Linked DNA regions of Homo sapiens: region 1 is linked to region 2. The links come from fine-mapping of genetic effects on gene expression. A gene starts in region 2. The other region holds a variant in brackets. All regions are shown on one strand. Distances are between the middles of the regions.

What was found.
Region 1: its variant is fine-mapped to the expression of TAMM41 in spinal cord (GTEx, PIP 0.94).

Annotation. Positions count from the first base shown.
Region 1 is chr3:11,796,759-11,808,182 of GRCh38, forward strand. TAMM41 (TAM41 mitochondrial translocator assembly and maintenance homolog) reads right to left here. Exons shown (of 8, transcript NM_001284401.2): 7 at 11,075-11,137. Among named protein-coding and RNA genes, the nearest start is that of TAMM41, 44 kb to the right of the region's middle. The variant G/C (reference allele first, on the strand shown) is at 7,053.
Region 2 is chr3:11,841,390-11,852,813 of GRCh38, forward strand. TAMM41 (TAM41 mitochondrial translocator assembly and maintenance homolog) reads right to left here and starts at 5,496. Exons shown (of 8, transcript NM_001284401.2): 1 at 5,113-5,496; 2 at 2,640-2,822. The coding sequence starts at 5,247.

The sequences.
Region 1 (11,424 bases), 45 kb before region 2:
AAGGTGGATCTCAGCTCAAAAGCTCCTTCAGCTGATAAACAACTTCAGTAAAGTCTCAGGATACAAAAATCAATGTGCAAAAATCACCAGCATTCCAATACAACAACAACAGTCAAGCCAAGAGCCAATTAAGAACGCAACCCCATTCACAACTGCCATAAAAAGGAATACATCTAACCAGGGAGGTGAAAGATCTCTACAAGGAGAACTACAAAACACTGCTCAAAGAAATCAGAGATGACACAAACAAATGGAAAACTTTCCCATGTTCATAGATAGAAAGAACCAATACTGTTAAAATGGTCATAGTGCCTAAAGCAATTTATATATTCAAGGCTATTCCTATTAAACTACCAATGACATTCTTCACAGAACTAGAAAAAAACTATTTTAAAATTCATATGGAACCAAAAGAGCCCGAATAGCCAAGGCAACACTAAGCAAAAAGAACAAAGCTGGAGGCCTCATGCTACCCGACTTCAAACTATAAATACAGGGCTACAGTAACCAAAACAGCATGGTGCTGGTACAAAAACAGACACATAGACCAATGGAACAGAACAGAGAACCCGGAAATAAGGCTGCACACCTACAACTATCTGATCTTTGACAAAGTAGGCAGAAACAAGCAATGGGGAAAGAACTCCCTATTCAATAAATGGTGCTGGGAAAACTGGTTAGCCATATGCTGAAGATCGAAACTGGACCCTTCCTCATACCATATACAAAAATTAAGTCAAGATGGATTAAAGACTTAATTGCAAAGCTATAAAAACCCTGGAAGACAACTTAGGCAATACCATTCTGGACATAAGAATGGGCAAACATTTCCTGACAAAGATGCCAAAAGCAATTACAACAAAAGCAAAAATTTTAAATGGGATCTAATTAAACTAAAGAGCTTCTGCGCAGCAAAAGAACAAGACAGTGAAGAACAGAGTGAACAGACAACCTAGGAAATGGGAGAAAATTTTGCAAACTAGGCATCTGACAAAGGCTTTATGTCCAGCATCTATAAAGAACCTAAACAAATTTACAAGAAAAAAAACAAACAGCCCCATTACAAAGTGGGCAAAGGACATGAACAGACACTTTTCAAAGGAAGACATACATGCAGCCAACAATCAAAGGAAAAAAAGCTCAACATGACTGACTGATAATTAGAGGAATGCAAATCAAAATCACAATGAGATTCCATCTCACAGCAGTCAGAATGGTTGTCATTAAGTCAAGAAACAACAGAAGCTGGTGAGGTTGTGGAGAAAAAGGAACATTTATACACTGCTGGCAGGGGTGTAAATTAGTTCAACCACTGTGGAAGACAATGTGCCGATTCCTCAAAAACCTAAAAAGAGAACTGCCATTTGACCCAGCAAGCCTATTACTGGAGTACATACCCAAAGGAATATAATTCATTATATCACAAGGACACATGCATATGTATACTCATTGCAGCATTATTCACAATAGCAAAGACATGGAATCAACCTAAATGCCCATCAATCGTAGACTGCATAAAGAAAACGTGGTACATATACACCATGGAATACTATGCAGCCATAATAAAAAAGAGACCATGTCCTTTGCAGGGATATAGATGGAGCTGGAGGCCATTATCCTCAGCAAACTAACACAGCAACAGAAAACCAAATGCTGCATATTCTCACTTACAAGTAGGAGTTAAATGATGAGAACACACAGGACACATAGAAGGGAACAACAGACACTGGGGCATACTGATGGGTGAAGGATGGGAGGGGTGAGAGGATCAGGAAAAATAACTAATGGGTTCTAACTAGGCTTAATAAATAGGTGACAAAATAATCTGTGTAACAAACTTCTATGGCACAAGTTTACCTGCATAACAAACTTGCACATGTACCCCAAACTTAAAATAAAAGTTAAAAAAAAAGAACAAGGTGGAGAAGGATAGAGGTTCTGAAACTTACTGTGAGGATGAGGAAAGAGAAACAGGCAAACCAGTCACTCGGTGCCTGTCACTGTTAGTTTACTCCAGCTGGAGACCTGGGCCAGGGGCTAACACTATTCAAATATGACATTGTAAAGAGGCTTGTTTTAAAGAGAGGTCAGGAAACTTTTAGGTAATGATACCAAAAGAAGAAAAACCAGACACAATGCTAGATGCCTTAATATATCTTAAAATATAATCTCCTGGCCAGGTGCAGTGGCTTAACCCTATAATTCCAGCACTTTGGGAGGCTGAGGTGGGAGGATCACTTGAGCCCAGGAGTTTGAAACAAGCCTGGGCAACATAGTGGGACTCCATCTCTACAAAAAACAAAAACAAAACAAAAAAACAGCCAGGTGTGGTATTGCATCCTTTAGACCCAGGTACTTGGGAGGCTAAAGTGGGAGGATCACATCATTGTACTCTAGCCTGGGCTAGAACCTGTCTCCAAAAAAACAAAACAAAAACAAAAAAACAAACGTAAAATACACCATTGCACTCTGGCCTGAGCTAGAACCTGTCTCCAAAAAAACAAAACCCAAAACAAACAAAAAACCAAACATAATCTTCACAACCTGGTGAGGCAGGCATAATTATTCCTATGAAGTTAAAACTCAGAAAAATTAGGTAACTTGCCCAAGTCACACTGGTTAGGTTGTAATTTGAGCTCTAGTCTCTGCGGCTCACAAACCTCTGCCCTCAGCACTATGCTAGGAAACCTTTGTCACAGCCCTTGGCCATAATAAACAGAGCAGCCAGAGCATAAGGCCATTTAACCCACAGAATCTGAAGGGGTGCTCATCACTTTCCATGCTTTATGTCACCTCAGTGTGAGGTAACATACATTCTGTCACTCTGGACTTCCACAATGCAATGTGGCATCATTAGAAGTGAAGAAAAGGCTGTGCAGGAAGAGAGGTTAAAATGTTTAGAAAAATTTATTTAAGGAAATAATCAATGAAAGCTTCCCAAGTCTAGCAAGTGTGTCAGATATCCAGATACAAGAGACCCAATGACCCCCAGGTGAATACACTGCAAAAAGGACTTCAACATAGCATACTATAATCAGAAGGTCTAAAGTGAAAGTAAAAGAAACAATTTTAAAATAAGCAAGAGAAAAGCATCTAGTCACCCATAAAGGAAACCTCATCAGACTAACAGTGGACTTTTCAGCAGAAACCTTAAAGGCCAGAAGAGAATGGGATAGCATTTTTAAAGTGCTGAAGGAAAAAAACCCTGTCACCCAAGAATTTTATATCCTGCTAGAATAAGCTTCATAAATGAAAGAGACTAGTCTTTCCTAGACAAATACTAATGGAATCTGTCACCACTAGACCAGCCCTATAGGAAATGCTCAAAGGAGTCTTAAACATGGAAACAAAACGCTGATATTCACCATCACAAAAATACCCAGAAATATAAAACTCACAGTTCTTATAAAACAATCTCACAAAAGAGGAAAAGAAAGAAATCAAATTACAGAATTTCATCAAAACACAAGGACAAAAAGAGAAAAAGAAAGAAAACAAAGAATTTATAAAATAACTTGAAAATAACCATGTGACAGAAACAAAACCTCACATATCAATATTAACTTTAAATGTAAATGCATTAAATGCTTCATTTAAAAGATACAGACTGGCAGAATGGATTAAAAAAACATAATCCACCTATATGCTACCTACAAGAAACTCACCTTACCTGTGAAGACACAAATAGACTGAAAGTAAAGGGGTGGAAAAAGATATTCCATCCAAAAAGAAATCAAAAGGAGAACTATATATATGTCAAATAAAACAGACTCTAAATCAAAAACAGTTAAAAAAAAAAAAAAAGACTAAGAAGGTCATTATATAATGATAAAGGGATCAGTTCACCAAAAGGGTACAGCAAATCCTAAATATATATGCACCCAACATAGGACCACCCAAATTCACAAAACAAATATTACTAGCTCTAAAGAAAGAGATAGATAGCAACACAATAACAGTGGGGGACTTCGACATTCTACTCACAGCACTATACAGACCATCGAGGCAAAAAATTAACAAAGAAACACTGGACTTTAGACCAAATAGACTTAACAGACATTTACAGAACATTCTTCCCAACATCTACAGAATATATGTTCTTTTCATCAGCACATAAAACATTCTTCAAGCATGGGCTACATAGGGAGACTTTGTCTCTACAAAAAATAAGATTAAAAATAAATGTAGCCAGGCATGGTGGTATGTGCCTGTGGTCCCAGCTACTCAGGAGGCTGAGGTGAGAGGACTGCTTAACCTTAGGAGGTCAAGGCTACAGTAAGCCATGATCACACCACTGCACTCCACCCTGGGCAACAGAGCAAGACCCTGTCTCAAGAAAGAAAAAAAAAAAAAAGGAAGAAGAAACATTCTTAAAGATAGATCACACATCACACATTAGGCTACAAAACAAGTCTTAACAAATTTTAAAAAATCAAAATCAAGTATCTTCTCAGACAATAGTAGAATAAAGCTAGAAATCAACATAAGAGGAACTTCAGAAATGATACAAGTACATGGAAATTAAACAGCATGCCCCTAAATAATCACTTAATCACTGGGTTAATGAAGATTTTTTTCCCCTGAGACCCCTGAGACAGGGTCTTACTGTGTCACCCAGGCTGTGGTGTAATCATGGCTCACCGTAGCCTCAAACTCCTTTGGCTCAAGTGAGACTCCTGCCTCAGCCTCCTGAGTAGCTGGGACTACAGGCACATACCACCATGCACAGCTGCACAGCTAATTTTTTTGTAGAAATGGGGTTTTTCCACGTTGCCCAGGCTGGTTTCAAACTCCTAGGCTCAAGCAATCCACCCACCTCAGACTCCCAAAGTGCTGGGATTACAGGCATGAGCCACCATGCCTGACCTTAAAAATTTTTGGAAACAAATAAAAATGAAAACACAACATACCAAAGCCTGTGGGATGCAGCAAAAGCAGTGCTAAGAGGGCATTACTAATGTTTACAGCATTACATGTCTACATAAAAAAGTAGGAAGATCACAAATTAACAACCTAATGCCATACCTCAAGGCATTGAAAAATATAACGAAAACTATAACAAGAAAAAAAATAACTAAACTCAAAGTTAGCAGAAGAAAAGAAATAACAAAGATCAGAGCAGAACTAAATAAAATGGAGACCAAAAAACAATACAAAGTATCAACAAAATGAAAAGTTGGGACTAGGTGCAGTGGCTCATGCCTGTAATCCCTGCACTTTGGGAGGCTGAGGCTGGCGGATCGAGATTCTAGGAGTTCAAGACCAGCCAGGGCAATGTGGCAAAATCTCACCTTGACAAAAAATACAAAAGTTAGCCAGGCATGGTAGTGTGCACTGTAGTCCCACCTACTTGAAAGGCTGAGGTGGGAGGATTGCTTAAGCCTGGGAGGCAAATATTCTAGTAAGCCATGATTGTGCCACTGCACCGTGTAGCCTGAGTGATAGAGCCAGACCCTGACTCAAAAAACAAAAAAGAAAAGTTGGTTCTTTGAAAGATACACAAAATTGATAAACCACTAGCTAAGACTAAGAAGACAAGAGAGATACAAATAAACAAGATACAAGACAAGAAGAGATACAAATAAACACAATCAGAAATGAAAAAGGAGACATTACAACTGATACCACAGACATACAGAAGATCATCAGAGACTATTATAAACAACTAGATGTCCACAAACTAGAAAACCCAGAGGAAACTGATAAATTCATGGAAACATAATCTTCAAGATTGAACCAGGAAGAAACAGAGTATCTGAAAAGATCAGTAATGTAGTAGCAAGACTGAATCACTAATAAAAATCTCCCAAGAACAAAAAGAAGCCCAGGACCTGATGGAGTCACAGCTGAACTCTACCAAACACAGAAAGAATGAATACCAATCCTTCTGAAACTATTCTAAAAAGATCAAGGAGGGAATTCTCCCTAACTCATTCTATGAGGCCGCTATCACCTTGGTACCAAACAGACAAGGACACAACACCACCAAAAAAGAAAATTATAGACCAATATCCCTGATGAACACAGACACAAAAATCCTCAACAAAATACTAGCAAATTAAATCCAACAGCACATCAAAAAGAGAATACATTATGATCAGGTGGGATTTATCCCAGGGATGCAAGGATGGTTCAATATATACAAATCAATAAATGTGATACATCACATAAACAGAATTAAGGACAAAAACCACATGATTGTCTAAATAGATGCAGAAAAAGCATTCAATAGCCTGGGCACAGTGACTTATACCTGTAATCCCAGCACTTTGGGAGGCCAAGGTGGGCAGATCACTTGAGATCAGGAATTCAAGGCCAGCCTGGCCAACATGGTGAAACTCCGATTTTACTAAAAATACAAAAATTAGCCAGGCATGGTGATGCATGCCTGTAGTCCCAGCTACTCGGGAGGCTGAGGCAGTAGAATTGCTTGAACCCAGGAGGCAGAGGTTGCTGCGAGCTGAGATTGCACCACTGCACTCTAGCCTGGGTGACAGAGATTCCGTCTCCAGCTACTCAGGAGGCTGAAGGGGGAGAATCGCTTGAAACCAGGAGGTGGAGGTTGCAGTGAGGTGAGATCGCGCCACTATACTCCAGCCTGAGCAACAGAGTGAGGCAGTTGCTCTGTCTCACAAAAAAAAACAAAAAACAAAAAACAGATGTTGGTGCAGATGTGGAGAAAAGGGAATGCTTATACACTGTTGAAGGGAATCTAAATTAGTATAGCCTTTATGGGAAACAGTATGGAGATTTCTTAAAGACCTAAAAATAGAATTAACCTTTGATCTAGCAATCCCATTACTATGTATACATCCAAAAGGAAAGAAATCATTATATCAAAAACAAAAACAAAAAAAACCACTCGTATGTTTACTGCAGCACTAGTCACAATAGCAATGATATGGAATTAACCAAAGTGTCCATCAATGGAGGACTGGATAACAAAAATGTGTATATATCTACATCTATATCTCACCTTGAATACTACTTAGCCATAACAAAGAATGAAATAATGTCTTTTGCAGCAAGATGGATAGAACTGGAGGCCACGT[G/C]TATAAGTGAAATAACTCAGAAACAGAAATTCAAGTATCACATGTTCTCACTTTAAGTGGGAGCTAAACAATGTGTATGCATGAGCATACAGAATAGAATGACACTGGTGACTATAAAAAGTGTGAGGGTGGGAGGAGATGAGGGTTGGAAAATTACCTATTGGGTACAATATTCACTATTTGGGTGATGATGGGTACACTAAAAGCCCAGACTTCACCATGTAAGAAAAATGCACTTGTATTCCTTAAACGTTTTAAAAATTAAAAAGAAAAAAAAGTGAAGGGGAAGCAAGCAGTAAGCACTCAGGGGAAGCAGCATCAGCACTCCAGGGCCACAAGGACAGCTGAGCTGTGGGTTCTGTGATCAACTGCCCTCTGCTGGTGAGTAGAAATAATGAGTGGAAAGAGGACCAAAGGCTCATTTCAGGTTGAAGGTGTCAAGAAGATCTTTTTCAGCCTTTTATTAGAGAAAAATTCAAACTTAAATAACAGACAGAAGAGTATAAAACAGCCCCATGCATCTTTACCTAGCTTTGACAATATATCAGCTCATGGCCAATCTTGTGTCATCTACCCATTACCCACTGCCCTCTGCCATGTTTTATTTTGAAGCAAATCCCAGACAACATATCATTGCATCTGGAATTATTTTAGTATGCATCTCTAAAAGAAAGGGAATTTTTTAAAAAGCTCCATAACACCACCATTGTCACAACTGAAAAATAATTAACAATAATTCTAATAATTCCAATAATTCCTTATAGCATGGGACGCCAACAACAAAACAAATCATTAAGCCTCACCCAAGGAGGATCATGGCAAGGGAAAGGCAATCATGCAAAATTCAGATTAACAGCATGAATCACCCAAACAAACAAAAGTACCTCATCTTCAGTCTTGCCAGAGTAAACTAGCAGGAACATAGATTAAATGAATATCTTAACTGGAAATGCAAAGCCATGCACCCAAATGGTAGGAAAATCTTTAGTTCAGCAGATGTGACACAAGTGCTACTAAGTCTTTGTTGAAACTTTTATACAATGTTTTTATTATTATAATTTTTTTTTTTTTTGAGACAGGGTCTCACTCTGTCACCCAGACTGAAGTGCAGTGGTGCGTTCTTAGCTCAATGCCGCCTCGACTTCCTGGGCTCAGGACTACGGGCGCGCACCACCACGCCCAGCCCTTTTTTTTTTTTTTTTTTTTTTTTTTTTGAGACGAAGTCTCACTCTCGCCCAGGCCAGAGGCAGTGGCACAATCTTGGCTCACTGCAACTTCCGCCTCCCAGGTTCAAGCAATTCTCCTGCCTCAGCCGCTCAAAGGTGGGACTACAGGCATGTGCCACCACGCCCAGCTAATTTTTTGTATTTTAGTAGAGACGGGGTTTCACCATGTTGCCCAGGCTGGTCTCAAACCCCTGAGCTCGGGCAATCTGCCTGTCTCGGCCTCCCAAAGTACTAGGATTACAGGCATGAGTCACCACATCCAGCCTATTTTTTCTATTTTTTTAGAGACAGGGTTCCACCATGTTGCCCAGGCTGATCTCAAACTCCAGGACTCAAGTGATCCTCCTGCCTTGGCCTCCCAAAGTGCTGGGATTATAGGTGTGAGCCACCGCATCTGGCCTATTTTTGTTATTTTTAAAGAGACAGGGTCTTGCTGTGTTGCCCAGACTGGTCTTGAACTCTTGAGCCCAAGCAATCCTCCCGCCCTGGCCTCCCAAAGTGCTGGGATTATAAGTGTGAGCCACCATGCCTGGCCTTGTTGAATCTTTCCAGTGATTCAGGAGGGCAACACGGTCCTTGAGGGCCAAATGCTCAGAGGAGTATCCAAGCAGCTGGGCTATGAGACACTGAGAGGTGTGACCATACCAGCTCCCCAGCAATCTCAAACCCAGGGATTAGAATTAGGTTGAAAGATCACTCCCCTTTTTGGGCTACCTCTGTGCTATTTCTCCCTCTCTTGCAAATTTCTGTTAGCATGTCTCTTTTCCCTTCTAAATTATACGCCTCTGCAAGTCAGTATAGCATTTGATATGGTTTGGCTCTGTGTTCCCACCCAAATCTTACCCTGAATTGTAATAATCCCCACGTCGTGGGAGGGACCTGGTGGGAGGTAATTGAATCACGAAGGCAGGTCTTTCCTGTGCTGTTTTCATAATAGTGAATAAGTGTTACGAGATCTGATGGTTCTATAAAAGGGAGCTCCCCTGCACATGCTCTCTTGCCTGCCGCCATGTAAGACATGATTTTGCTCCTCATTCACCTTCCGCCATGATTCTGAGACACCCCCAGCCATGTGGAACTGCTAATCAATTAAACCTCTTTCCTTTATAAATTACCCAGTCTGAGGTATGTCTTTATTAGCAGCATGAGAACAGACTAACGCAGCGTTGTGTTCACTTTTGTATCCCGAGCAGCTGGCACATGAGAGATGCTCAATGGATGCTTGCATGAAGAAAGCCTGAACTAGAAAAGTCTATCACTTGATGATGCCAAATGTTGGAAAAAATGGGAAGAAAAGAGTATTCTCCTACTCTGCTTGTGGGACGATGAACTGATACAGCCACTTTGTCCTCCAAAGAGATGTCAAATATTTAGGCCATAAAACAAGAATAGGATGCAAAAAACAGGAGCATTCAGAGAACAGCAAGAAAAGAGAGAGTTCCTGGAAATTATAAACACTCAACAGAAGGGTTGGAAGCTAAAGTTGAGAAATTCGAGAAAATCTTCCAAAGCAGAGCAAAAGAAAAACAGATAAAAAATAGAAGACAAAAGAAAGAAAACCAAAGACTAATCTAGGGGGTGCAATATCTGAATAAAAGGAGTTCCAGAAAGAGAACAGAGAAAACAGATGGGACAAAATTAAAGAAAAAATTTAAAACATTTTTCTTATATGCTTATATTCTGAGTTTCCCAACAGAAAGGGCAATGAATTCCCGGTAAAACAGATAAAACAGATAAAAACAGACTCACATCAAAGCACATCACTGAGAGAATTCAGAGCACTGGGGAAAAATAAAGACCTAACATGCTTCCAGAAATAACATACACAAAGGATTAAGAATCAGATTGGCTTTAGACATAGACAACAATCCTAGAAGTAAAAGATAAATGCAGCAATGATCTCAAAATTTTAAAGGAAAGTGATTTCTAATCAATACCCAGCCTAAGTATTAACTATGGGTGAAGACAGACAAAAAAGACTTTCAGACATACGTGGTCTCCAAATGTGCCTTCCATGTTCCCCTTCTCAGGAAATTACTGGAAAATGTGCTTCACCAAAATGAGAGTGTGCACCAAGCAAGTGAAAGACATGAGATACAGTAAATGGGGGACCCCCTAGAGGGGACAGCGAAGACACTCTCCATGAGAGAAGAACATTATGCAGGGAAGGAAAGGTGTACTCTGTGGCTCACCATACCATCAAACTGAAAACTAATTAGCCAAAACCACCAGACAACTATATTAGGAGGACAGAGGGATGGGAGGGTGCGTACATTTGATGAGGGTGGGTGCCAGAGTTGACTTCTAACCTCCCATAGAGAGAAGTCAATAGATGATACCTAAAGTTGAAACGTAGAGAAGGAGCAACGAAAACTTACCATTTAGAGAAATGGCAGTAACAACAAAAATAACCCACTAAGACAGATGGAAGCAGTTGTCTCAGAGAAGGGGAAGAGGAGGGGGAGCACAGATGCTGCTGTTTTTGCAATCCTATGCATCTGTAACTTTGATAAATAAAACAATATGAGGGAAAAACCCTGCACACAGGAAGTGTCTCAGAAAATTCAGAAGGGCAGTAAAGCTTCCAACAGCACTGCCAATGGTCTGACATTGTTCGACCACCAGGTTCTGCTGCTGTTATGCCTGTTTGTACCTTACTGCAATATCCCAGTTTATGGCCATCAAAGCTCAGCATTTCACAAGCACCTAAAAGATACAAAGCTTTACACTGTAACCAAGAGTGTGGAAGCCACTCAGTCAGCAGGTATGTTACACACGGATTTCCAAAGCTCTTACCAGCAGTAAAAATGCCTTTCGTGCTCTGTCTTATACTAGACGGTCTCACGATTGCTGAAAGCCCTGCGAGAAAAAAACCAAAAAGGAGACCAAAAAAACCCAAAACAGATGTTAGTCATCTTAACAGTTTTAAAACTTGAAACTAAATATTCTTTCTAGTCAGCCAATCAAACCACCAAATCTATCTCTGTCCTGCTGTCACAGTGACAATGAAAAGGGCAGTGGGATTGAGGGCCAGGAGACCAGAGCAGCCAGCCGTGGCGCCACCCGGCTGTGTGAGTCCAAGCCGATGACCGAACAGCTCTGTGCCTCTTCCCCTTAAAACAAGGGGATGGGTTAGCTGACCCTCA
Region 2 (11,424 bases):
CCTATTTCAATAATAATTTGTATAAATCCTGTAGATTTCCCAGGTTACAAAGTCCCATTTGCATAAACAAGTATCTTCAGACCCACTTTGCTGAACCTCAGTATCCAAACAGCCTTCTCAGGCTGCAAATATATAAAAAGCAGTTAAAAATTATCAATTAAAAAGTAGTCTTTTGGCATATAATTATGCCCAAACATTTGGTTACTGGAACTTATAATATTCTTTGAAAATTACTAATTACAGGTAGGTTTGGCATAATATTAACTGTGGAGAAAGAACAAAGCTAAGTGTCCTGCATGACTCAAGTGGATGCAGAAGGCTGTGCTGAGTGTCAGCCTTTTCCCCCCAACTCCAGCAGCAGCACTGCAGAAAGCCCTTCTAGCTGCAGGCAAGTAACCACTGGGAGGTAACAGAAACACCACGGGCCTGGAAGTCAGGGGACCTGTTGCAAACTAGCTGCACAACCTTATGGAAGTCATTTCCTCTCTCTGAACTTCAGTTTCCTCAACTGCAAAATACAGGTGAAGCAAGGTTGGATCTCAACCGGAAAAGCAAATATATGGCCCAAGGGGTATGCAGACGTCACCAGTCAATCACAACACTCACTCCTTAGCCAAGTTCAGACAGACCTTCAAATCCTTCTCAAGTCAGTACTCCAACCTCCTGCCCTTTAAAGCGTGGGCCTTTGACCAATGGCATTGGCATCACTTGGGAGCTTATAACAAATGCAGAATTACGCCTGTAATCCTAGCACTTTGGGAGGCCGAGACGGGTGGATCACCTGAGGTCAGGAGTTCGTGACCAGCCTGGCCAACATGGTGAAACCCCACTCTACTAAAAACACAAAAAATTAGCTGGACATGATTACAGTAGTGGGCTCTGTAATCCCAGCTACTCGGGAGGCTGAGGCAGGAGAATCGCTTGAACCTGGGAGGCGGAGGTTGCAGTGAGCAGAGATCGCACCATTGCACTCCAGCCTGGGCAACAAGAACAAAACTCCATCTCAAAAAAAAAAAAAAAAAAAGCAGAACCTTGGTGGGGCATGGTGGCTCACACCTGTAAATCCCAGTACTTTGGGAGGACTGTTTGGGGTCAGGAGTTCAAGACCAGCCTGGGCAACATGGCAAAACCCTGTCTCTACAAAAAATACAACAATTAGCCAGGCGTGGTGGTATGTGCCTGTAGCCCCAGCTACTTGGGAGGCTGAGACAGGTAGATGGCTTGAGCCCGGGAGGCAGAGATTGCAATGAGCGGAGATGGTGCCACTGCATTCTAGCCTGGGTGACAGAGCCAGACCCTGTTTCAAAAAAAGAAAAAGAAAAAAAAAAGGCAGAATCTCAGGTTCCATCTCAGACCAACTGAGTCAGGATCTGCACTGAAATGGGATCTCCAGGTGGCTCGATGCCGGCCAAAGCCTGACCGCCTTGAACAATGAGTGGCAGAGCTGGCACAGCAAGTGAAACCCATATGTCATCCCTGGCCCAGGGAAGCTCTAGGAAGCATCTGATTTAGACCCCTACTGATCCTTGCAGGCTGGGGTTCTGCCTAGGTCTTGACAGCTCTCTTGGAGACTGCGATGCTTCAGCTGAAAGACAGTTCAGCAAAGTTCCTGCTGTCAGATGAACCACCAGCAGGAATCCATGCAACTTACCTGCTCTCCAACAGCCCACTGTCAAATTCCACGCGTCTCCTGGCACCAAGAGGTTCCCGTCTATCACCTGACACACATGCTCTCAATCACCTGTGATATCCTCTTCACTTCCAACTTCTTCCTGGGGGTGTCTGCCCCTCCTTCTAGATAAAATCAATCTCCAACCTGACCCAAAATTGGCCTGCCTATTCCTCCCACTGACCAGACCAATGGTTCTAGACCAGCAGCTTCAGCACTGTTTGGAAGTGTGTTAAGAGATGCAAATCTTCAATCCCTACCCCAGACCTAGTGATCAGAACTCTGGGGGTGGGGCCCAGCAATCTGTGTGTCCAATGGACACACAACCTAGGGGATTCTGATGCACACTAAAACTTGAGAACCACTTGGCCAAAGACAAAAAAATAAAGTCAGTGTGGCCGGGCTCAGTGGCTCACGCCTGTAATCCCAGCACTTTGGGAGGCTGAGGCGGGCAGATCACCTGAGGTCAGGAGTTCGAGACCAGCCTGGCCAACATGGTGAAACCCTGTCTCTCCTACAAGGTGGCACACGCCTGTAATCCCAGCTAACTGGGAGGCTGAGGCGGGAGAATCACTTGAACCCGTGAGGCGGAGGTTGCAGTGAGCTGCGATCACACCACTGCACTCCAGCCTGGGCAACAAGAGCAAAACTCCGTCTCAAAAAAATAAAAAAAATAAAATAAGTCAGTCACACCCAACCACCTCCTCACACTGCAATGACAGTTAATGGGACATGAGGAAGGACTCCAGTCCCTGCTCTGTCCCCAAGTTCAAGACGTCTGGCAGGAGTGTGAATGTTTCCTGACTATAAGAATATACATACTATAAAAACATACATATTTCCCGACTATAACAACGTCCAGCAGGAGTGTGAATGTTTCCTGACCACAAGAACATACATATTTAGCTGGCACTCTAATAACCCAGGTAAATAACCAGCCAAGTTAAGACAAAGGCCAGCAGTCACTTACCCTACCATTACACATGATCAATGAATTGTAGTAAACTCCAGCGCCATAGTTATTCTGGATGGACGTGATAATCTTGGGCCCTAAAACTTTTAGGAAAGAGTAGTGACTCCAATTTTTCTTCAGGTTCTTTGAATGCCATGCGACAGGGTCATCTACTGTGAACACAAAGTCCAGCATAGCATTCTGTGGAGTGAAGAAAAGAGAATAATTTCAGTATTAATTCCTAGAAAGGCAGCAAGAGAGCATGGAAAAGCTCTAACATACTACGCAATTATGATCAATAGTCAGAAGGCCTGGTGCTGTCATCAGAAATGTGAGCGAGTCTCTGGAACAAATATGAGCTTTGTTTTCATCAATGTAATAATAGCAAACACTTCTTTAACATGTATTGTTGTGCCAGCACTCTTTAAACACTTTATGGGTAACATACGCAGTCACTCCATTTATCCTCAGCACAACCCTACAAGGTAGCTACTGCTATTATCTCAATTTTATAAGAAACCAAGGCACAGGGGATGCTCTTTGCCCAAGGACACAGAGCTTGTGAGTGGCAGACCTAAGAGGTCTGGCTCCAAACTGTGTGTGCTGAACCACTGCACTACACTGCCTTTCACAAATGTAGCTAAATGTGCTCCGCTTTTCTTCTGGATCAAATTAGCACCACCTGGATAAACTCTACAAAATACTATATAAAAGGAAGTCAGTTATTTTATCTCTTACCTATTCACCAACCACTTATTGAGTACATAAGTAATGAACTCTGACAGGCCCTAGGGTAGAAGTATAGAGCTCAGAGTCTACTGGAGAGAATAAACAAATTATCACTACATTGACTTGATAGAGGAATGCAAAATGTACTAACTGCACTCAGCATAGGGATCAGATCAGGGGCACAGGAGGGAGAAATTCTCCTAGAGATGACAAATCTGAGTCTTGAAGGACACGTGAGTTAAACAGACTTGCTGGAAGCACTGGGGGAAGCACAGGGAAGGGTAGGGAGCCGTGTTGGAGGAAAGTGCTCTGTGGATATGGGAGCCAGCATGTTCTGGAAGCTGCCGTCAGATATGACTGAAATAGAACACATTTATGCGGTGGGAGATGAGATCAGAGAGGGAGGCTGTTTGCCATGCTAGAAAATTTTCCTGCAGAAGAGCTGACTGGAGAGAAGAGGGACTAAGGGGGTGGGGGAATTAGATCTGAAGCCATGGCAAGATTCCAGGGGAGAAATGAAATTATATTAGCTAAGGCGCTAAGGATGGGGACTGATGTGAGAAAGATGTAGGTGTTGGAATCTACAACTTGTTCACTTGAATGTAAGGAATCAAAAGTGAGGGAATGGGAAGGAAGGACCTTTTCTTGCAGGGAATTCCAGGTCTATTCAAAGGAAAACCTCCATGGAAGAATGAAGAGGTGGCCATCAGGAGGCTAACGCCTGCTCTGTAGAGTGTGACTCTACAGACCACTGGGGACACTTGAGATTTGGTGGCGAGGCAGGTATGGAATAAACATGTTTTTTAAAAATGTGTAATTATGTTAAGGTAAATTCGGGAAAAATAACTAGCCTATAATAACCTATAATTTCTCATATGCTGCCAATTTAAAGAAAAATATTAAATAGTAGTGTAAGTGGGAAACAGAGGAAATCCAAGCAACAGCATAGATGGCCTCACCAGGAAGTGAACAGGCAGGATGTTAATCAGAAGACAGACTACAGTCAGGTATCCAGACGCAGGGGGCCCCATTAAAACCTGCACACTGAATTCTGCAAATTACAAGGAAAACTGTACCCTTACTGAGGCTGTGCTGAGCCAACTCTGAAAAGTAACAATGCCTAGTCTCAAACAGACCGTTGTTAAAAGTGCTGAGCGAGGGTAAATACACTGGTCACGCACTAACTTTTGATGTTAGTTACTTTCACTGCACCTGCCCTGGCCCTACAACCAGTCCGCCAACTTCCTGAAGTCAGAAGATCATTTTGCATTTTCTCCTACATTTATAGAGGTGACTCTCAACAAACTTGGCTGCGCATTAGAATCACCTGGGACGTTTCTTAAATTCCTGAAGCCCAGGCCTCATCCCAAACCAATTAAATCAGAATCTCCATCGGCGGAAGCCGAGCATTAGGATTTTCTTAAAAGCTCCCCAGAAAATTCCGATGTCCAGCCGACTAAAACACTGAAAGAACCTGATAACGATTTCTTTTCCTTTCTTCCATTTGCCCCTGCAGCAGTTTTTCCTTCTGCCTAACTGCTTCTCCTGCTCTAGACCCACGTGGATTCCTAAGTATCCTTCAACACCGTCGCTTCAACTCGCGCTGTCGTTATACTAGGAAGGCAGGCCTATGGTTCACTCTGCTAGTGGACACGTGGAGTGTGCAGAGCGGACAGGCAGCTCTCCGACTCTGAAGGAATCGAGGGCAAAACGGGACTCGTGAGAACAGACAGTTCCCCGTCGTGGGGCTGCCCGGGCTCACCTTCTGGTCTGAACTCGGCCCTGCCTGGCGGTACACCCCGGAGCCGTAGACGAAAGCCAGACTCAGCTCCTCGGGGAAGTGAGACAGGATCTTGCGGAAGGTCACCCACGAGCTCTGCAGCGTCTGCAGCGCCATGGGGTCGAGGCTAACAGGGGACACTCAGCGCAGCAGGGCGAGGACAACCGGGCGGGGAACAGACACCGGGTAGGCGGTTTAGGGTGGGAAATGGAAGTCGGAGACTGGATCGAGGGACACAAGGCTGAGTGTGGGGTGGGACTGCAAGCACACGCAAGGATTGGGGCGTTGGGCCACGAAGAGCAGCGGCGAGAAGACGCAGCCCAGATAGGCTCGGGTGGGCGGCGGTCGCACAGGCAGAGCTTCCGTCCCTTGCTACGCCCCACGCACGCACAGGCGCTTCCAAGACGCAAGAGGCGGTGCTCGCCTTAGTGTGGGGAACGCGAGGCTTTGCATTGTCCCCTCGTGGTCGGAGGAGTGCCCTACAGGCTGGCGGCTAGGTTGCGACTTGGACAAATCGGCGGAGGCGAGCGTCACCCGACTCCGCGGGCCCTGAGCCTTGATAGCCTCTGTACTTCTCTCTTCAAACTACGGTTTAAAGAATGACTATAAAATCGGGAGCGTATTGAAGGTTTTTAAGTGAGGCGACACTCACATAATATGGAACTAGCCGTTCTGAAATGGACAGTGTAGTAGCATGTAGTGCCTTCACAATATTGTGCCCCCATCATCGCTCTAGTTCCAAAATTGCAGATTTCGAAGATTTGGAAAAACACAAAATTAAAATGATGCCCAATCCCGCCATGTAGAGAATACCACCGTCAAGATTTGACGGAGACTTCTTCACGCTAAAGCCCTTTTCAAATACAAGGGTGGATATGGGAGTGCACAGACGTTCTCTGATACTTGCATTTAATTTCAAGGGTGGATCACAGTTTTTGCCCCCTTGCCTTGTGGAATGGTCTCACAAAGGGTGCTTCAAATGCAGTTTCTGGAGGAAACAGGACCCTAGGAGTAGAAAAATCTTACAGCTCTCCTCTTTGTATAACTGGAGAAACTTGCTGAAGATTACCATTCAGGAGGTGGTTTGACTTCCAGGACAGAAACTTTTTCAACTACCCTCTCCTTCCTCCCCAAAATACACTACCTCTCAAAAATAATAGAAATAGTAATAGCTAACATTCAGGTAATGTTGACACATTTTCACATGCACTTCTCACTGAGCACCCTCTAGTGCCCTGTGGCAGGAGGGCCTTGGTTTTACTGATGGCCAAGCTAAGGCTTAGAGAGGTAAAGCCAGGTGATAGGATCACATCAGCCTGTGGCAAAACTAGAGCTAAACCCAGGTCTGGCTCCAACTCTGGGATTTTTTCGGAAATTCTGCTCTGTCCTTGAAGGGTTTTGAGCAAGGACTTATGTAATTCACATGTTAGCCTGAATTGTGGGGGACTGATTAGACAGTTGTTATCATAGTTCCCCCATGAACTGGAAACGGCTAGGCCAAGGTCTTAGGAGCAGGGATGGGATTAAATCAATTGGAAAAATGATTACTTGCACTCACACTCTGGGCCTGCACTGAGATGAAGAGATCTGAGCTGCCTGCTGCCCTGCAGGAGCTAGGGGTCTGTAGAGGAGAGGAGACAGAACTGCAAATCAGAGTAGAATTTGGGTAATGCAGCCAGGTACCCAGCACAGTGCCGGAATGTAATGTCCCTCCAATGGGAACGTCAGTCAGTTCTGGGTGTTGGGGAAAGGGACCAGAAGAGGTTTCACAATGATGGCATTTTGAGCCAGGCCTGGAAGCTGGGTAGGAGTTTATCAGGTAGAAGATAGATGGGAAAATTCAACCAAGAAAGAATTGAAAGGACTCGGTGACAATAATACTAATAATAGGTGTCATTATTAAGCACTTAGTATGCCCAGGCACTTTTTAGACTTCTTTGGGGCTTTTCTGTTTTTGTTTTTTTTTTGAGACCGAGTCTTGCTCTGTTGCCCAGGCTGGAGTGCAGTGGCACGATCTCAGCTCACTGTGACCTCTGCCTCCTGGGTTCAAGCAAGCATGCCTGGCTAATTGTTGTATTTTTAGTAGAGATGGGGTTTCACTGTGTTGGCCAGGCTGGTCTCGAAATCCTGACCTCTAGTGATTTGCCCACCTCAGCCTCCCAAAGTGCTGGAATTACAGGCGTGAGCCACTGCACCCAGGCTTTTTATACTTGTTTCTTTTCATCACTCCAGAGATCCTATGAGGCAGGTTCTCTAAGATGATGATATTTTTCATACGAGGAAACAGAGGTCCTAAGAGGAGCAGTAAATGTTCCAAAGTCACACAGGAAAGTGGTGAAGTCGGGGTTTGAACCTAGGGCTACCTACCTCTAAAGGCCAAGGTCTTTACCACCATGTTTAAGTGTCCTCTACAGCGGCTTGCAGGGTGAGAGAAGGAAATGGGAAGAAAGCAGGCACTCAGGCATCAGCCAAGAGTCAGGAGCAGCAGCAGTAGCCGCAGCAACAAGCAGGAGACCAGGGCAAGGGAGCGGAGAGAGGCCGTTTGTCTGCGGCCCCTGGTGTGGGCATGGTCACTTCCGTTCATTTTTACTACATATCGCCCTTGCCCAGGGTGCCGGAATCAGAGTGCACTCACCGTGGAATTACACTGAAGCCTCTCACCCAAAGACAGTGAATAAATCTCATTACCAGCCGGTTCCTTTTTTATTTCCTTCCTTCCCTTGGGGAAATAATTCAACGTCATTGGATTTTTCCTGTTTGCAAAAGTAATCCATGTTCATAAAAATGTAAACATTATGAAATACATACATCATGCCCCAGAAATAGCCACGGTAATCTTTGGCACATATTCCTTCCAATATTTTTCTATGAATATATTAACATTAAAAACAATTTTAAGTGGATTCCTAGGATAGATACTATTTTGCAATTTGCTTTTTTTGCACTTAGCGTATCAGGGACAATGTTCTGTGTCAGAATATATAGATTTCCCTCATTCCATGTATTAGTAGCAAATTATTCTAAGATATGGATATGCCATAATTTTGTTTAAAATTTTTTGTTTAAAAGAAAGTGTTTAAACATTTTCTTTCTCTTTCTTTCTTTCTTCTTTTCTTTTGTTTCTTTCTTTTTTTTTTTTTTTTTTTGAGAGCGAGTCTTGCTCTGTCACCCAGGCTGGAGTGCAGTGGCACAATCTAGGCTCCCTGCAACCTCCACCATCCGGGTTGAAGTGATTCTCCTGCCTCAGCCTCCTGAGTAGCTGGGATTACAGGTGCCCGCCACCACATCTGGCTAAGTTTTGTATTTTTCGTAGAGACAGGGGTTTCACTATGTTGGCCAGGCTGGTCTCGAACTCCTGACCTCAAGTGATCCACCCGCCTCGGCCTCCCAAAGTGCTGGGGTTACAGGCATCCTGGCCTGTTTAAACATTTTATTGTTGATGGATGTAGGTTATTTCTAGTTTTCACACCTGCAAACAATGCTATCATGAGCATCCTTGTACATTTTATGTGCATGAACAAGTATTGCTATAAGACAGATTCCTAGAAGGGGAATTGCTGGGTCAGAGTGTCAGCACGCTGCTAAATTCCCCTCCAAAAGATGGTGCCAATTCACACACCCACCAGCAGAGTTCAGCCCTTGATAGAAATAAAGATGCTGCAATGTTTCTCCATTTGTCTCCCTTACAGGCGTTCACACCCAATTATCAGCAATTTTCATGTTCACAAACACTTTTCTTCCTGCAATGCAAAACCACCAGCTGGAAGGTTCCATCACATTCCTGTGTGCATTTTGCCTTTCCCCAGAAAGAGGCAGAAGCAACGTAGCCACGAACACATTTGTATTCTTCAGCAGAAATCTCCCTGCTCCTGGCCCTTCATCCACCCACTCTCTTTTAAATTACCATGGCTTGTGAAATTAGAGGCTATTAGGAAGACCCAGTGTTCTATATAATCGCTTTAGGGTTCTGTTGGAAAGCTTATACCAATGAAATAAACATGTTAGAGAGCCACTTACAAATATAGATAAATGCCTGGTGACTCGAGTGAATATTGGGCCTCATTCTTCTGATTTATCTAGCAGTTGTCTTTGTATTCCTTAATAATGACCTTGTCAGGCTTTCACTAGGAGAAGGTTCATCGAATCCATGTAATCCATTTTTTTTAAAGCCCTGTAAAAAAACATCTATGGCTTTAATGCTTTTTTTTTTTTTTTCTAATCAGTGTTTAAGTACAGGAGAGAAAAATGTTTGGGGAAGAATAAAAATCCAGGCTCAGTGGTTCTTACAATTAGCCACATGTTCAATTGGTCTGCTGATGGAGGGGAAGGAGAGGGGTCTTGATCTCCATCTTGTCAGAGGTGGGTCACCCTGTCCCATTTGTCCATTCTCGGCTGATTGATGGTTAGAACTGGGACAGACTGGGAGCATTTTTTCGTTTTTTCTTTTCTTTTCTTTCTTTTCTTTTCTTTTTTTCTTTTCTTTTCTTTTTTTTTTTTTTTTTTTTTTGAGACAGGGTTTCACTCTGTCACCCAGGCTGGAGTGCAGTGGCACGATCTCGGCTCACTGTAACCTCTGCCTCCCAGGCTCGAGTGATCCTCCCACCTCAGCCTCCTGAGTAGCTGGGATTACAGGCATGTACTACCACACCAGGCTAATTTTTGTATTTTTGTAGAGAATGGGGTTTCACCATGTTGTCCAGGCTGGTCTTGAACCCTTGAGCTCGAACAATCCACCCACCTAGGCCTCCCAAAGTGCTGGAATTACAGGCGTGAGCCACTATGCCCAGCCAACTGAGAGCATCTTAATACATCTTTAGTGTCTGATCAGGGGCTTGAAGGTACCACCTGGGTTGGAATCCAGGCCCCAGGATTTAATAGCTGTGTGACCTTGGACAAGAAGACTTAGCCTCTCTGTGCTTTCCTTTCCTCATCTGCAGCCTGGGGAGAGTAATGACACCTCACTCACAGGGTTGTTGTGACAGCAAATGAAACAGTATCTAGAAAGTACATAGAATAGTGCCTGGAGTAAGCTTTCAATAAACGGAGGACATCCTCCTGAATTCTTAAGAGACAATGTACAAAAGGAATTAAGAAGCATAATTATACCTACATCTTTATGGCGTTTAGCATTTTACACAAAGCACTTTGCAGACATGATTTTATTTAGCTCTTAAAACAAATCCTGGGAAATTAGTAGCTACTATTTCAGTTTTACAGATGGATAAACTGAAGCTTAGAAAAAAGAATTGATGTGCCTGAAGTCACAGGGCTAATGGCAGCTGCTAATACAGCCTCCAAGTCCAATCCCTTTCCTCTTGCACGAGAAAAATAACACGGGGTGTTCATTTCACCAAGGGACCCATTCATTCATTGATTCATTCTCCCATTGAAACCTTCCTCATCCTTTAGTCCCAGCTCAGCTATCAAAGTGTTCTGTTCTCTGTGCCTTCCTAACCCTTTGCTTTTAGCTCTCTAGCTCTTGTCTTAAATATCAGATATGTCCATCAAGTACAATTATAAAAGGCTTAGGGGCCCTTTGAGGTCAGGAACCATATCTTATTAATCTTTCTGTCCTTTAGTGCCTAGTACAGTGCCTGAAACAAAATTTCTGCATTTGCAAATGTTATAGTCTGGTGGCAAAAAATTCACATGCATGCAAAAAAAAATACACTATGGAGAGTATAAACCAGATCTATACCACCGCAATGGTAAGACAGCAGGGGTTACTTTTTCTTCAGGGTTTCTGGGAAAGCTTCTTAGAGGGATGACATTTGGATTAGACCTTGGAAGATGACCAGCAGTTCACCAGAGAGTACACCGTGAAAAAATTCTAAGAAGAAAGAATTGCCTCCATACTGGGTCTTAGAATCCTCCTTCTAGGGGGACACTGAGTTTTCCAGTGGAGTTCAGGAAGACCATGGACTTTTACAGTACCAAAGAAATGAATAAATAATGGTGGAATTCCAAAGAACAGAGCAGGTATCTCATCTGAGAGGCAGAATGTGGAATCTGGATTGAGACTGCTTGGTTTCAATTCTCAGCCACTGATGATCTGTGTGACCTGGTGCAAGTTGGCTCTGTGTCTCAGTTTCCACAAGTATAAAATGGGGATAATAAGAGCGTCTACCTCCCAGAGTTGTCATGACAACTAAGCTGGTTAGATCAATCTCTGACATGTAGTGAGTACTACGTATGTGTTTACCCTTCTGATTCTCCACTATCCCTGAAATTCAAGCTGGTCAGCAGCTGCCCACTTTATCTCTCTGTAGAACTGGCCCTGAATTTTGGGAGAAA